Linked DNA regions of Homo sapiens. The protein of the gene in region 2 purifies or fractionates together with the protein of the main gene of each other region. This does not show direct contact. Each region holds a gene or a part of one and is shown on either strand. Other genes may lie near its edges.

What was found. Proteins that work in one complex are often made in the same cells at the same time.
Region 1: the proteins of SCAF1 (region 2) and RPRD1A purify together in Homo sapiens (affinity purification with mass spectrometry; one large-scale study listed by BioGRID and IntAct). This does not show direct contact.
Region 3: the proteins of SCAF1 (region 2) and RPAP2 purify together in Homo sapiens (affinity purification with mass spectrometry, with the first as the bait; one large-scale study listed by BioGRID). This does not show direct contact.
Region 4: the proteins of SCAF1 (region 2) and RPRD2 purify together in Homo sapiens (affinity purification with mass spectrometry, with the first as the bait; one large-scale study listed by BioGRID). This does not show direct contact.

Annotation. Positions count from the first base shown.
Region 1 is NC_000018.10:35,989,324-35,992,457, forward strand, and holds the end of RPRD1A (regulation of nuclear pre-mRNA domain-containing protein 1A), read right to left. Parts: 3' UTR 501-3,134; downstream 1-500. UniProt on the Homo sapiens protein: Interacts with phosphorylated C-terminal heptapeptide repeat domain (CTD) of the largest RNA polymerase II subunit POLR2A, and participates in dephosphorylation of the CTD by RPAP2.
Region 2 is NC_000019.10:49,647,326-49,653,065, reverse strand, and holds part of SCAF1 (splicing factor, arginine/serine-rich 19), read right to left. Parts: intron 2,199-5,740; coding exon 1-2,198.
Region 3 is NC_000001.11:92,392,543-92,396,558, reverse strand, and holds part of RPAP2 (putative RNA polymerase II subunit B1 CTD phosphatase RPAP2), read right to left. Parts: 3' UTR 1-4,016.
Region 4 is NC_000001.11:150,366,631-150,370,646, forward strand, and holds part of RPRD2 (regulation of nuclear pre-mRNA domain-containing protein 2), read left to right. Parts: intron 1-4,016.

The sequences.
Region 1 (3,134 bases), on a different chromosome or scaffold from region 2:
GGTCCCTAACCCCAGTGGCATCAGCATCAAGTTGTTTGAACTGTAAACCATCAGGCCTTACCCCAGACCTACTGAATCAGAAGCTCTGGGAGTGGGGCCCAACTATCTGTAGTTTATAAATCCTCTAGGTCAGGGATGTCCAATCTTCTGACTTCCCTGGGCCACCCTGAAGAAGAATTGTCTTGGGCTGCACATAAAATACACTAATGATAGCTAATGAGCTAAAAAAAAAATCTCATAATGTTTTAGTTTACAAATTTGTGTTGCACCACACTCAAAGCCGTCCTGGGTCACGTGCAGCTCACAGGTTGGACAAACTGGCTCTAGGTAATTCTGATGCTCGCTCAAGTTTGGGAACTACTGGCCAAGTAAATCTCCTCCTTCAGCAGTCTCTCTACCATAACATCAGAATTATTTCCAGTACTTTGCTTCCCTCCCAGTCCATTAATCTTTCCCCTTCCCACCCCATATCCAATGAATCAGATTCACAAAACAACCTACACATTTCAAAAAGAACATAAAACTTTATTAAGAACATCTTATACTGTCATCAGATACAGCCAAAGAAGAACGGGTAAACAAACAGGGAAAGTTCATCTTCCCATGTGCTATTGCCACCTCAGAACAGACTCCTGTGTGGATGGCTGGAACAACAGTTGGCAACAAATGCTCTGTATAAATAATTCATTAAGTAACACAATGTTTCCTTTCTATACAGAGAAGAACTGGGCTTACATTTTAAGTTTTGATATAGTGCAACAACTATGAAACAAGACTACATCCTTAGGAGCTATTTCTTAATAGAATACAAAGCAGTTTAGTAGCTTTATGTTATTTCAGATAATGTAATTTTTTTAATGAAAAATTCAGAAAGGACATTCTAACTTTCCCAATTAGTTAATTTGTACTGTTGAGTTTTTTCTCTCTAAAGATTTCTCAGAATCAGTTCAGTAACTATACTTTAAAAAGATGAGTTGCTCATCTACAGTGATAACTGACAACTTAGTTTTGTGATTTTGCAAATCAAGATGCCTGGGTCATCCCCACTTTTGCTGATTCTGAAAGATTTCTTATAGAAAAACCCTGATTCAGAGTGCATGTGATAGGAGATACCAAAATAGCTGCATCTGGACAGGGAGGTTGGCTATTGAGCACAGCTGATTCTCAGATTCCTGGTTCCCCTCTATGGTCCTTTTACTTACTGTAGTGATGGAAGGAGAGAAGGAGCGCCCGAGAATCTGTTCAGATTGTGACTCCAGACAGCTCTCTGCACTGTATGTGGAGAAAAGAGTGATGGCATCCATTCAAACCATAGCAGCCCTACGGCACCATGCTTTTCTCTTGAGGGGTCAGACCAAACTGCACTCAAAGATGCATGATCTGCCTCAGGTGCACAGTGGAGAAAACGCTCATGATTTACAATTTGGTATTATAATACCCCCAACTAATCCCATTTCTTGAGAAAATGAAGTCTTCCTTTTAGGAAGAATGTTTGCTGCTAAGGCTTACCATGTTAATTATCACACGGCTGAAAAGATGACTTCTAAATCAGACTGTATTGTCTGTGTTCAGTTAATACGTTAACCAACAACTGAAGTTTGTGGAGGATTGGTCGAGGGGTGGGATTCAGGTTTTTGAGTACTATCACTTATCACAAATCTCATCAAGCTCTTTAAAAAAATAATGCATTTTTATCATAAATATTTAGAGCAGATACTGGCATTAAAATCAGTATCTAAGTCAGAAGTCTGTCTGAAATGGTGAAAATATTTCAACAAACTTCTAAAAGATTTCAAATCTTCCCAGGAGTACATAGTTTATAAATTAGTTTTAAATGGAAAAAAATATATATTTTGAATGGATAAATCACCACTTTAGCAGATCATAAATAAGGTCAAGATATTGAAAATAAGTTAACATACAAGTTTTTGCTTTCACATTAATAATAAAAACTAACTTACTTAGTATACTTTCATAACATGTACAACCAGGTTTCATAATTGTGCATCTGTCACCTCCCCACTTGGCTGAATCTTTTTCTTCCATTTCCTACACCTAGGGACAGAGGTACACAGACATCCCAGGGTGTGAGTGTGGCTGCTGCATGCTGTGTCCTAGTTAGAGCAGTGTTACAAATGCTGGTCAGGATCTATGATTAGTAACCTGTGAACCACGTTACAAGTGAAGGACATTCATGGTTAGGTGGATTCAGTTCCCAGGTGAGCTATCAGCGGTAGTGTTAGGGAACCTAACTACTATTCTTTCTGTGAGAAAATGCACCCCAAGTCCCAAAAGTTGACTAAAAACTTTGGAATAAGCCATGTATTATTAGTAGTGCATGGATGAGCACTACTTATATGTGTCTCTGTTTTGGAGAGAGGTCAAATTGTTAAAAGAACTATTTGCAGAACTACTTGGCTATTAAAAATAAATGTCTGCCTTCTTCATATGCAATTCATTGTAACTATAATTTCTAATACTGAGAAAGAAACAATGAAGCCATTCAGACTAGAGAGACATAATTGGCTTGTGGGATTTTCAAGATGTTTTATTGACTATCTAATTTGAATCTACTTACAAAGAGAAGAAAAATGTCTAGTATGTAAAGCAATGAATGAAAATAAATGTTTATCCTAAGTCATTATTGAGTACAAATCCACAGCTTAACAATGTGTTTTTAACAGCAGGAGAGCATGCAACTGCTCTAACACACAGGGTCAGAAATAAAAGGTAAAAGTACATTTGTTTTGTAACTGTAAATATACAAATATAAAATTTACCATATCTACCCTGTAGTGTGGCACTGCTTAACTGCCAAATATACAGTCATTCAAAAACCTTAAGGAAACATTGAAAATGTCTCAGGCTACTTTACTGAACATTAACGAATATTGTGTTCTTGAGCTATTAGAGCTAAAAGTATTATTTTTAAAGTTATATGAGCAAGGGAATAATAAAAGTATCATTTCACGTGTCTTTTAATCCCATAGACGGCTTTTTGTTAAAGGGATTAATTATGTTAAAAGGAAACTGATTTGACAAATAGAAACCAGTTCCAGAACCAAAGTTGTCCTCTTGGTAGAATGTCAAAATGTATATTATTTCCAAAGTATTTTCATTATTAATCTACTCAA
Region 2 (5,740 bases):
CGGAGCTGCTTTGGCCATCTCAGTGGGGGCCCGCTCGTCAGGTTTGAGGAAGGGGGAGCGACTCTCGCGGTCACGGCTGAATTTGACGCCAATGGAGCCCAGGCCGGCTGACGCGGCATCCTTGGCCGGGGTGGTGCTGCTGACACCCTCGCGGATCAGCACCGCCACCTTGGACTGCAGCTTCACCTTCCGGGAAGAACAGGAGGACGACGAGGATGAAGAGCCTGAGCCGCTGCTGACTGGTGGCTTTGGCGGGGGCCCTGAGGAAGGCGCCGACTCCTTGGGGGGCCGGGCCTTCTTGGATGACCTGTCCCTGTCCCTATCTCTGTCCCTGTCCCGATCCCGGTCACCCCCGTCCAGCGCCTTCCGACGAGACCCCTTCTCCCGGGAAGAGGAGGAGGAGGAGGCGGCCCCCGAGCGGCGCCGATCCTTCTGGCTGCTCTTGCCGCCCCGCTCCTCGCCGCTCAGTCCCTCGGAGTCGTACAGGACCTCCCGCTTAGGTGAGGAGGCCGGAGCAGGAGAGGGTCCTCGGGGGTCGGACTTGTCAAGCCGGCCCACCGTGATGGTCCGCTTGATGGCGAAGAGGTCGTGGTCCGTGAGGTCCTGGATGGAGGGTGGCACGGCCCCCCGGCGGCGGCTGTCGCGGTCACCACACGAGGTGGAGCCAGAGGGCGGCGGGGCGGGCGCCGGGGCCTTCTCGCTGCCATCCCCAGACCGCTTCTCACCCCGGGACCGCGACCGCTTCTTCTTCTTCTTGCTGCCGCCACCGTCCCGGTGTTTCCCGCGGTGCCGCTCGCGCCTCGAGGACGACGATGAGGAAGTGGCCGGGGGCGGGGAGGCGGAGCGCCGCCGCCGTCGCCGCTTCTCCCGGGACCGCGACCTGCGGCTGCCCCCGCGGCGGCGGTCGGTGCTGCGCGAGCGGCGGCGGGTGGAGCGGGAGCGGGAGCGGGAGCGGGAGCGGCGGCGGGCGGACGACGAGGCGTGGGAGCCGGGCTTGCGGTCCCGCGAGCGGTGCTTCTTGGAGTCCCAGGGCGAGGCCGGGGCGGGCGGCGCTGGCTGGGTGCCCGACGAGGACGAGGCGGCCTCCTTGGCCTCGCCGCTGCGCTTGCGTTCCCGCCTGGACTTCTTGCGCGTGGGCGGACCAGCAGCGGCGGCCGGGGCGGGCGCGGGCGCCGGGGAGGGCGAGCGCTGGCGGTAGCGCTCCCGCCGTTGGGTCAGGATCTTGCGGCGCAGGTCCAGGCCGCCCCAGCGCGAGTCGGCGGCGGGCGGCGCGGGAGCCGGCTCCCCTAGGTCCACCTGCAGGGCGCCCTCGCCGTCCGACTCCGCATGCAGGGACAAGAAGTCGTCCCCCTCGGGGGCCCGCGGAGCGGGAGGCTGAGGAAGGGGCTGGGCCGTGGGGGTGGCCGAGGCGGCCGGTGTAGGCCGGGCGGCCCGGCCGCCGGGGCGGAAGAGGGACAGCGCCAGCCTGGGCTCCTCCTCCGGCTGGACGATCTCCCCTTCCTCGATCTCCGAGTCGCCGGGCGGCAGCAGGGGCGGCGGGAGGGCGGCTCCACCAGCGGTCACCACCTCCACCGAGACCTTGCCTTCCCGACAAGCCTCTGCCTCGGTCCCCACCACGAAGACCCGCCGGCGCATGGCTCCATCAGCCCGGGTGGAGTCCACCTGGGGCGGCGTTCCAGGGGCGGGAGTCGGCTGTGTGGGCTGCGCGTCCGGGCGGGGGCTCTCGTCACCTGGGAAGTCCTGGCTCAGGCTGTTGTCATCGTAGATGCCCGCCAGGGTCTCCGAGATGCGGCTGATGCTCTGGGACAGGCCTTCCTCCTCCTCCTCGTCTTCCTCTTCCTCTTCTTCTTCCTCTTCCTCCTCCTCTTCCTCCTCAGGTGAGGGGGTCCCCGCTGATGAGCTGGGGTTGGAGCCGGTGGGCTCAAAAGGGTCGTACTTTTGCTCCGGAGCAGGCGGTGGAGAGTAGGCCTCGTCGGTGGGGTGGAAGGGGTCATAGATATCGAATCGGGGGGCAGGTGGGGCTGGGGGTGCAGGGGGCGGTGGGGGTGGGGGAGGGGAAGGGGAGGAAGATGAGGGAGAAGGGGAAGGGGAGGAGGATGCAGAGGAGGGGGCAGGGGGTGGGGCAGGGCCCCCGTCTCCCGTGCCCAAGGTGAGGTGACGGGCACAGGTGGGCCTAGAGGAGTTCGACTGTGGAGAAACTGCAAAGGAACAGGGAGAGAGAGGCGGTCAGGGCCTTTGCCTCCCTCCTGGTGCCTGCTTGCTGGCCCAGCCGTGGACACTCCCTGGGCCACCAGGTCCTGCCCAGGAAGCCCCAAGTGCTTCACAGGAGCCAGCCGTAGGATGCTCCCAACAACTGCACACCATGGTTCTTAACCCAAAGGTCACAGGAGGAAACTGAGGCAGAGGGCTGCAGTATCCTCCCCAAGGGCACACAGAGAGAAGGCAGCAGTCAGGGTGTAAACTCAGTCAGTGCGGCCCCGAACCTGCACTCCCATATCCTGAGACAGCACTGGCCTGACCCTGGGCAATGTACCCTGGCCTTGAAACTAGGAACTATCTTGACCAGTGCCGGCGACCCATCCCAGGAGGAGGTGGAGGCTGCAGTGAGCTATGACCACAACACCACACTCCATCCTGGGGGGAGAAGAAACAGGAAAACAGGCTGCAGGGGGAGAGCTGGGATTCAAACCTAAGTCCCCCTCCAAGACAAAAACAAGCTCTGGCCTGCTGCGCCAGCTGCCTCTCGTGGGAGTTTCTCCCGTTTGGTAGAGGGTGAGATTCCAGTGCAGAGCCAGGAAATGGCAGAGCTGGGGAGCCCAGGAAGGCTGGTCTTCACCCCAAGCTCTTCACTCTGTGCTGAGTCCCCACCCAAGGAATTACATCTGCTCAGGACTCAAAGACACCACTGACCAGTGACAGTGGCAATGACAAAGGTTTGCCTCTTCCTCCAAACCAGGCATGGTGCTTCGTATGTCACCTCATTCGCCCCCAAAGAGCCCGCTGCACTGTGCTAAGTACTACAGTCATGATGCCACAGTCACACGATGGAGATGGCTGACAGAGGCCACACCACAGGCAAGGATGCCAGCAGAGTGGTGTGAGGACAGTGCCAGGGAAGGAGAGGGGTCAAGAGGGCAGCACCAGAGCCACCCCTTGATCCAGGGGCTGGCCCTCACCAGCCACATGACCACAGGCAAGTGGATCAATGTGTCTTACTTCAGTTTCCTCATCTATAAAATGGGGGTATGTTCATTCATCCAACACCCTTTATGGCCGGGTGGGGTGGCTCATGCCTGTAATCCCAGAACTTTGGGAGGCCGAGGTGGATGGATCACCTGAGGTTGGGAGTTCGAGACCAGCCTGACCAACATGGAGAAAGCCCATCTCTACTAAAAATACCAAATTAGCCGGGTGTGGTGGCACATGCCTGTAATCCCAACTACTCGGGAGGCTGAGGCAGAAGAATCACTCGAAACCAGGAGGCAGAGGTTGCAGTGAGCCGAGATCGTACCACTGCACTCCAACCTGGGCAACAAGACCAAAACTTCATCTCAAAAACAAACAAAAAAAATATCAATGAGTGGAGTGTACGGTCCCTCAGCTGCCAAGGGCTTAGGGGAAGATGAAACAGGGGTGATGATGACAGCATTTACTTCCCAGGATAAGCGGAGGAATAGATGAGTGCGCAGAAAGAGCCAGGCTGCACCTGCTGCTGGGTGAGGACAGTCTGAGCCTCAGCTTTTCCTAGCCTCATTGCTATTCCCAGCACCTTAAGCACAAAATACTCTCCACAGACTAGAGCGCTCTGCAAACACGCGAGATCCACAGCTTTATATAAATTTCTGTATGGGACAGGATTATGGGTGAACTTTCTTTTCTTTTTAAAGCTACCTGGAATAAGCAAAGAAAACATAACCTCAGAGTCCCCCTGAAAACAACTACTATTAGCTTCCGGATACACCCTTATCACTCTTAAGGCCCAGGGGTCAAATCCAGCATACCACCTGTTTTCCTAAATCAAGTTTTAGAGGAACGTTGCCTGACCCATTTGTTTACTTATCCTCTGCAGCTTCTGATTTTTTTTTTTTTTTTTTTTGAGAGGGAGTCTCACTCTGTTACCCAGGCTGGAGTGCAGTGGCACGATCTCAGCTCACTGCAACCTCCATCTCCTGGTTCAAGCAATTCTCCTGCCTCAGCCTCCCGAGTAGCTGGGACTAGAGGCGTGTGCCACCATGCCCAGCTAATTTTTGTATTTTTAATGGAGACAGGGTTTCACCATGTTGGCCAGGATGGTCTCAATCTCTTGACCTCATGATCCGCTCACATTGGCCTCCCAAAGTGCTGGGATTACAGGCGTGAGCCACCGTGCCCAGCCCTACAGCTTCTGATTTTAAAGAAATTGAAACACTTTTGTGGGCCCCTAAGAATGTCATAAGTCCTAGGCACCATATCACTGTACTTAATGGATAAATCATTTCCAGCTGTTAAAAAAAAAGGGGGGGGGGTGTGGCAGGCATGGTGGCTCATGCCTGTGATCTCAGCAGTTTGAGAGGCCAAGGCAGGAGGATTGCTTGAGCTCTGGAGTTTAAGACCAGCCTGCGCAACATATCAAGACCTCATCTCTATTAAAAATTTTAAAAAAATAAAAAATAAAGGCTGGGCGTGGTGGCTCACGCCCATAATCCCAGCAGTTTGGGAGGTTGAGGCAGGCGGATCACTTCAGGTCAGGAGTTTGAGACCAGCCTGGCCAACACAGTGAAACCCTACCTCTACTAAAAATACAAAAATTAGCTCAATGTGGTGGCATGCGCACCTATAATCCCTGCTACTCAGGAGGCTGAGGCAGGAGAGAATCACTTGAACCCGGGAGACGGAGGTTGCAGAGAGACTAGACCCCACTACTGCACTCCGGCCTAGGTGACACAGTAAGACTCCATCTCAAAAAAAGAAAAAAGAAAAAAAAAAACTAGCCAGGCATGGTGGCATGCACCTGTAGTCCCAGCTACTCCAGAGACTGAGACAACAGGATAACTTGAACCGGGGAATTTGAGGCTGCAGTGAGCTGTGACTGTGCCACTGCACTCTAGCCTGGGGGACGCAGTGAGACCCTGTCTCAAAAAAAACAAACAAGGTAGCAGGGCACAGTGGCTCACGCCTGTAATCCCAGCACTGTGGGAGGCTGAGGCGGGCGGATCACTTGAGGTCAAGAGATCAAGGCCATCCTGGCCAGCATGGTGAAACCCCATCTCTACTAAAACTACGAAAATTAGCTGGGTGTGGTGGCATGCACCTTGTAGTCCCAGCTACTCAGGAGGCTGAGGCAGGAGAATCGCTTGTACTCGGGAAGTGGAGGTTGCAGTGAGCTGAGATTATGCCACTGCACTCCAGCCTGGGCGACACAGCGAAACAAGGTAAACAAGGTAAACATGACCTGGCACAGAGTGGTGTGCCTGCTCTACCACAGAACTGGTGCTCACGGCTCACAGCTGGTGCCCATAGCTGACTGCACCTTCTTCTCCTCTCCCTCCAACCCCTCCTCCAAATACAGATGTTCACGTAGAAGGAAGGCCTAAACCCAGGGTTCTCAACAGAGTCCAGGGCTCAGCAGCATGTATTGTTTAAAATGAAAATTCCCAGGTCCCACCCCAGACCTGCAGAATCAGAACTCTTGGGAGTGGGCCCAGTGATGTGCATAGTAACAAGTCCTCCTTGCAACTGAGATGTGCGTTCGCGTTTGGTC
Region 3 (4,016 bases), on a different chromosome or scaffold from region 2:
AGGCAATCCATGTTTTCACATCAGACCCATGCAACTGCTAATTTAGTATATGCCTTTTCTGGACTGTAAATGGAAACATACCATATGTGGGATATTGCATCAGACTTCTTTCACTAAGCATAATGTTTTGAGATGCATCCATATTGTAGCCTATATCACTACTCCATTGTATACATATATCATTTAAAGAAATCCACCAGTTAAAAAAAAAAAGAAAAAGAAATAATCTGGGTATGTTGGTGCCTGCCTGCAGTCCCAGTTACTGAGGAGGCTGAGGCAGGAGGATTGTTTGAGCCCAGGAGTTTGACTTCAGAGTATGCAACATAGTGAGGCCTCATCTCTTAAAAAAAAAAAAAAAATCCAGTAGTTGATGGTCATTTGGTTTCCACTTTTTGACTAATATGAATGATAATGCTATGAACATTTGCCTACGAGTCTTGATGTGAACACATTTCCACTTCTCTTCTCATGGAATAGCAGGATCATATGGTAAACTTATGTTTATCTTTTTAAGAAACTGCCAAACTGTTTTCCAAAGTGGCTGCACCATTTTACATTCCCACCAGCAATGCATTAGGGCTCCAGTTTCTCCACATCATCACCAACACATATCTTTGTCTGTCTTTTTTATTATAGTCATTTTAGTGGGTCCAAAATGGTATCTAATTTTGCTTTTAACTTGTATTTTCCTAATGACTAGTGATAGTACACATCTCTTCATATGCTAAGCAATTTGTATATCTTTGCTGAAATATCTATTCAAACATTTTGTCCATTTTTAAGTTGTCTGCCTTATTTTTGAGTTTTAAGAATTCTTTACATAGTCTAGATACAAGTCCTCTATCAGATACTTATTATGGTTTGAAAATATTTTCTCCCAGTCTGTGATTTTTCAATTAATTTTTTTTTTTTTTTTTTTTTTTGAGACAGGGTCTCACTCTGTCACCCAGGCTCTAGTGCGGTGGTGTGATCTTGGCTCACTGCAACCTCTGCCTCCCAGGGTCAAGAGATCCTCCCACCTCAGCCTTCTGAGTAGCCAGGACTACAGGAGCACGCCACCATGCCTGGTTAATTTTTGTATTTTTTGTGGAGATGGCATTTTGCTCTGTTGTCCAGTCTGGTCTCAAATTCCTGAGCTCAAGTGGTCCACCCTCCTTGGCTTCCGAAAGTGCAGGGATTTCAGATGTGAACCACCTCCCCGGGCCAATTAATTTTCTTAATAGTTTTTTGAAACAAAATTTTATATTTTAATGAAGTCCAATTTATTAATATTTTCTTTTATGAATTGTGCTATTAGTGTCTTAAGAATTCTTCCTAAACCAAGGTCATCTAGGTTTTCTCCCATGTTTTCTTCTACATGTTTTATAGTTTTAGCTCTTACATGTAGGTGTGTGATCAATTTTGAGTTTATTTTTGCATATGGTAGGAGGTAAGAATCTAAATTAATTTCTTCTGCATTTGATATCCAAATATCCTAGCACTATTTGTTGAAAAGACCATCTTTTCTCCATAATTTCATTGGGATTTTTGTCAAAACTTAATTGATCATAAATGTGAAGGTTTATTCCTGGACTCTGTTCCACTGATCTGTATGCCTATCTTTATATCAGTACCACACTGTCTTGATTAATGTAGCTTTGTAGTAAGTTCTGGATCAGAATTATTTCTTCATTTTCAGAATTATTTTGGCTATTCTGAATCCTTTATGTTTTCATACAGATTTTAAGATTGGCTTGTCAATTTTTCAAAAAAGCCTGCTGTGATTTTGATAGGGATTGCATTGTAGATTAATTTGGGGAGAACTGCTATCTTAACAACATTTGATCTTCCAATTCATGAACATGGATTGTGTCTACATTTCTTGATACCTTCTTTAATCTCTCTGAATTTTTCTTTTTCTTTTTTTGAGACAGGGTCTTGCTCTGTTGCCCAGGCTGGAGTGCACTGGCACAGTCACAGCTAACTGCAGCCTCAACCTCCCAAGCTCAGGCAATCCTCCCAATGTAGCCTCTCAAGTAGCTGGGACTACAGGTGTGCAGCACCATGCCTGGCTAGTTTTTTAAAATTTAATAATTATTTTTTTTATTATACTTTAAGTTCTGGGTTACATGTGCAGAACATGTAGTTTTGTTACATAGGTATACACATGCCATGGTGGTTTGCTGCACCCACCAACCTGTCACCTACATTAGGTATTTCTCCTAATGTTATCCCTCCCTTAGCCCCCCACCCCCCACAGGCCCTGGTGTGTGATGTTACCCTCCCTGTGTCCATGTGTTCTCATTGTTTAACTCCCACTTATGAGTGAGAACATGCGTTGTTTGGTTTTCTGATCTTGTGATAGTTTGCTGAGAATGATGGTTTCCGGCTTTATCCATGTCCCTGCAAAGGACATGAACTCATCCTTTTTTATGGCTGCATAGTATTCCATGGTATACATGTGCCACATTTTCTTAATCCAGTCTATCATTGACGGGCATTTGGGTTGGTTTCAAATCTTTGCTATTGTGAATAGTGCAGCAATAAACATACGTGTGCATGTGTCTTTATTGTAGAATGATTTATAATCTTTTGGGTATATGCCCAATAGTGGGATTGCTGGGTCAAATGGTATTTCCAGTTCTAGATCCTTGAGGAGTCGTCACACTGACTTCCACAATGGTCGGACTAATTTGCACTCCCACCAACAGTGTAAAAGCGTTCCAATTTTTCCACAACCTCTCCAGCATCTATTGTTTCCTGATTTTTAATGATCGCCATTCTAACTGGCATGAGATGGTATCTCACTGTGGTTTTGATTTTCATTTCTCTAATGACTAGTGATGATGAGCATTTTTTCATATGTCTGTTGGCTGCATAAATGTCTTCTTTTGAGAAGTATCTGTTCATATCCTTTGCCCATTTTTTGATGGGGTTGTTTGCTTTTTTCTTGTAAATTTGTTTAAGTTCTTTGTAGATTCTGGATATTAGCCCTTTGTCAGATGGATATATTGCAAAAATGTTCTCCCATTCTGTAGGTTGCCTGTTCACTCTGATGATAGTTTATTTTGCTGTGCAGAAGCTCTTTAATTAGAACCCATTTGTCAATTTTGGCTTTTGTTGCCATTGCTTTTGGTGTTTTAGACATGAAGTCTTTGCCCATGCCTATGTCCTGAATGGTATTGCCCAGGTTTTCTTCTAGGATTTTTATGGTCCTAGGTCTTACGTTTAAGTCTTTGTTCCATCTTGAGTTGATTTTTGTATAAGGTGTAAGGAAAGGGTCCAGTTACAGTTTTCTGCATATGGCTAGCCCGTTTTCCCAACACCATTTATTAAATAGGGAATCTTTTCCCCATTGCTTGTGTGTGTCAGGTTTGTCAAAGATCAGATGGTGGTAGACGTGTGGTGTTATTTCTGAGGCCTCCATTCTGTTCCATTCGTCTGCATATCTGTTTTTGTACCAGTGCCATGCTGTTTTGGTTACTGTAGGCTTGTAGTAAAGTTTGAAGTCAGGTAGTGTGATGCCTCCAGCTTTGTTCTTCTTGCCCAGGATTGTCTTGGCTAGGTGGGCTCTTTTTTGGTTCCATATGAATCTTAAAGTAGTTTTTTCCAATTCTGTGAAGAAAGTTAGTGGTAGCTTGATGGGGATAGCATTGAATCTATAAATCAGTTTGGGCAACAAGGCCATTGTCATGATATTGATTCTTCCTATCCATGAGCATGGAATGTTTTTCCATTTGTTTGTGTCCTCTCTTATTTCCTTGAGCAGTGCTTTGTATTTTATTTTCTTAGTAGCAATTGTGAATGGGAGTTCACTCATGATTTGGCTCTTTGTCTATTATTGGTATATAGGAATGCTTGTGATTTTTGCACACCGATTTTGTATCCTGAGACTTTGCTGAAGTTGCTTATCAGCTTAAGGAGATTTTGGGATGAGACGATGGGGTTTTCTAAATATACAATCATGTCATCTGCAAACAGAGACAATTTGACTTCCTCTCTTCCTATTTGAATATGCTTTATTGCTTTCTCTTGCC
Region 4 (4,016 bases), on a different chromosome or scaffold from region 2:
CTAAGACTCGGAAATTAAGTTGCTTAAGGTTACTCAGTAAAATGGTGGGGTTAGGGTTTGACTTCATCATTAACTTTGTAAAATAATGTTTAACGTTCTTGGTATACCAGTGATATATTGCAAACAGTTCTAATGTGAGTGAGAGAACCTCTTCTCCACCCTATTTTAAAACATTTTTACTGACCTATGCAAGCATTTTACATTTCCTCACCTTGGGCTCTGGGGCTTTAACTGTATGGTTACATCATTTGCAAGAATAAGTTGGTCCCTGTCCCGTCTCTGCTGTGTGGGATCACAAGCGACAATTACAGTTTTTTTTCTAGTCAGCAATAATGAGATAAAATGAAGCCAGAATTTTTTACCTCAGCTGTTGTTGCTATTGTGCCTGAGCTTATTTCCTTTATTGATATCTTAAGAGTGAAAAAATGAATGCTCCAGGAGGGCAGTGTGTCAGTTGAAGTGCATTGTGTATAGTTTATATAGTTAAGTGCTTTTGGCTAAATATGATGTTGTTTTTCTAGTGGAATGGAATTTAACTTTCTAAAATGATTAAGGGTAATTTTAGTCGTTTTGTATTTACATTTAATGAACTTCACTGGTCTCATTGTAAATAAAGCGTTTTGAGAGAAATATTCAGCAGAATGGTGTGGGGCGCAATGAAAACAGTTTATGCATGGGCCTTGTTTTCATTTAAGTTCTTATTTCTTTACAGTTATACTTAGTTTACTCTGAGTTTGGTTTCTAAGTCAGCTTTAGGAAAAATTGTGAAGCAGGTATCTTTGGACTCTGAGTTTGGTTTCTAAGTCAGCTTTAGGAAAAATTGTGAAGCAGGTATCTTTGGCATTCCCAGCCTTTCTGTCCATTTTCCTGATGCCACTTTGCTTCTCTTTTTTCTTCTGACATCCGTTATTTAGTAATTTATATTTATATTTAGACCTCAGTATAAATTTAAGTAACTATTAGATTCCAGAGATATTTTAATTTTATCCTTTATTTCAGTGTGTAATGAGACTTTTGTTCATATAAAAGGAAATAATTTAGAGAAATAGGCTATCTAAGGATATGTTCCAGAGATATTTTTATTTTATCCTTCTTTACTTTTTTTTTTTTGAGATGGAGTCTCGCTCTGTCGTCCAGACTGGAGTGCAGTGGCGCGATCTCAGCTCACTGCAACCTCCACCTCCAGGGTTCAAGCAATTCTCCTGCCTCAGCCTCCCAAGTAGCTGGGATTACAGGCACGCACCACCACGTCCAGCTAATTTTTGTATTTTTAGTAGAGACAGGGTTTTACCATGTTGGCCAGGGTGGTCTCGAACTCCTGACCTCAGACCATCATTTTCTAAGGTGATCTTTCTGTAGCATAAACAAATGTCATTCCTCTGCTTTAAAACCCTGCAGTGATATCCCATTGCAACAAGTTGAAGGTCTGAATTTCTTTTACATTGATCTGTAAGTCCTGTACCATCTGCTCTGCCTACCTCGGGCTTCTTCACATCCTGCCTCCTTCTCATTGTTTAGATCAAATCTCAACTATTACCTCCTCAGAAAGACCTACTTTGATCACCTTATTTCTTGTTTTTTTTTTTTTTTTTTTAATACGGAGTCTTAATAGATTTTTTTAAATTACATGTATCTGTTTTTTATTTATTTTAAATTAATTTAATTTAATTTAATTTTTTTGAGATGGAATTTCGCTTTGTCGTCCAGTCTGGAGTGCGGTGGCGTGATCTCAGCTCACTGCAACCTCTTCCTCCCAGGTCAAAGTGATTCTCTTGCCTCAGCCTCCTGAGTAGCTGGGATTACAGGCGTGCACCACTAAGCCCAGCTAATTTTTTTTTTTTTTTTTTTTTGAGACAGAGTTTCACTCTTTTCACCCATGCTGGAGTATAATGGCACGATCTCAGCTCACTGCAACCTCCGCCTCCCAGGTTCAAGTGATTCTCCTGCCTCAGCCTCCCAAGTAGCTGGAATTACAGGCATGCGCCACCATGCCTGGCTAATTTTTGTATTTTTAGTAGACGCAGGGTTTCACCATGTTGGCCAGGCTGGTCTTGAACTCTGGACCTCAGGTGATCCACCTGCCTCTCAGCCTCCCAAAGTGCTGGGATTACAGGTGTGAGCCGCCGCACCCGGTACCTGGCTAATTTTTGTATTTTTTGTAGAGACAGGGTTTCACCATGTTGGCCAGGCTGGTTTTGAACTCCTGATCTCAGGCGATCTACCCACCTCAGCCTCCCAAAGTGTTGGAATTACAGGCGTGAGCCACTGCACCCGGCTTCGCTTTATTTCAAGTAGTGCCTTCAATTGCTGTCACATCATCTTATTTTCAGTATATGATATTACCTTGTTTGTTACACGTTTATTGTCTGGCTTCCCTCCACCAGATGACAAGTTTGTCTTATTTGTTGCCCTGTCCCCAAACAACTAGGATAGTGCTGGCGTACAGTTAGCAATCAGTAAATGTTTGCCAACATAATGTGAAATAGCTAATCAAGAACTTAAGGAACAGAATTGCTTTAATTTCTGTTTATCAGAAGGAAGCATTTATAATTTAGTGAAAGAAATTACAGGTGCAGCAGTTGGAGGCATATGGACTTGATGTGCAATTTGCCCAGATTATCATTTCTGTACTTCGTTCTTCTTTCTCTCTTTTCTGTGGGGAGGTGGGGGAGGGACAGAGTCTGGCTCTGTTGCCCAGGCTGGAGTGCAGGGCATGATCTCCGCTCACTGCAACCTCCGCCTCCTGGGCTCAAGCAATCCTGCCACCTCAGCCTCCTGAGTAGCTGGAACCATGCCACCACACCTGGCTAATTTTTTTTTTTTTTTTTTTTTTTTTTTTTTTTTGAGACGGAGTCTTGCTCTGTCGCCCAGGCTGGAGTGCAGTGGCGCGATCTCGGCTCACTGCAAGCTCCGCCTCCCGGGTTCACGCCATTCTCCTGCCTCAGCCTCCCGAGCAGCTGGGACTACAGGCGCCCGTCACCGCGCCCAGCTAATTTTTTTTTTTTTTTTTTTGTATTTTTAGTAGAGACGGGGTTTCACCGTGGTCTGGATCTCCTGACCTCATGATCCGCCCGCCTCAGCCTCCCAAAGTGCTGGGATTACAGGCGTGAGCCACTGTGCCCGGCCTACACCTGGCTAATTTTTATGTTTTTGTTTTTGTTTTTTTTTGATGCAGAGTCTCACTCTGTCGCCTAGGCTGGAGTACAGTGGCGGAATCTCGGCTCACTGCAACCTCCATCTCCCGGGCTCAAGTGATTTTCATGCCTCCGCTTCCTGAGTAGCTGGGATTACAGGCACATGCCACCACGCCCAACTAATTTTTGTATTTTTTAGTAGAGATGGGGTTTCACCATGTTGGCCAGACTGGTCTCAAACTCCTGACTTCAAGTGATTCGCCCACCTCAGCCTCCCAAAGTGCTGGGATTACAGGCGTGAGCCACCACGCCCGGCCAAATTTTTATGTTTTTTGTAGAGACGAGGTATTGCCATGTTGCCCAGGCTGAACTCTTGGGCTCAAGCTATCTGCCTGCCTTGGTCTCCCAAAGTGGTAGGATTACAGGCGTGAACCACCAGGCCCAGACCTTCTTTCCCATTTTTAATGGTAAAATGGGAATCAATATGGAAAAATATAAAAGAGGCCTGTGTTAACATGTTAACTCCGGTCACTTAATACTGGATGACACTTTGCAAAGTACTTAAACTGTGAACCTCAGTTTTTCATCTATAAGTAGTTCTGTACCTGTAGATGAAAGTTCTACAATCTACAAGTAGAGATAATTCTGTCTGGAATTTACATTCCAGACACTGTCTACAGTGCTGGAAATTACATTCCCAGTTTGTGAGAGACGAATTGGACTAGCCTCTCTGTAGTAAATTAGCATATGCTTTGAAGAACTAGGAGGACAAAATGGAAAATATTGTGTTAATGACATCCATTTTGTCTTTTTTTTTTTTTTTTTTTTGAGACATATTCTTGTTCTGTCACCCAGGCTGGAGTGCAGTGGCATGATCTTGAC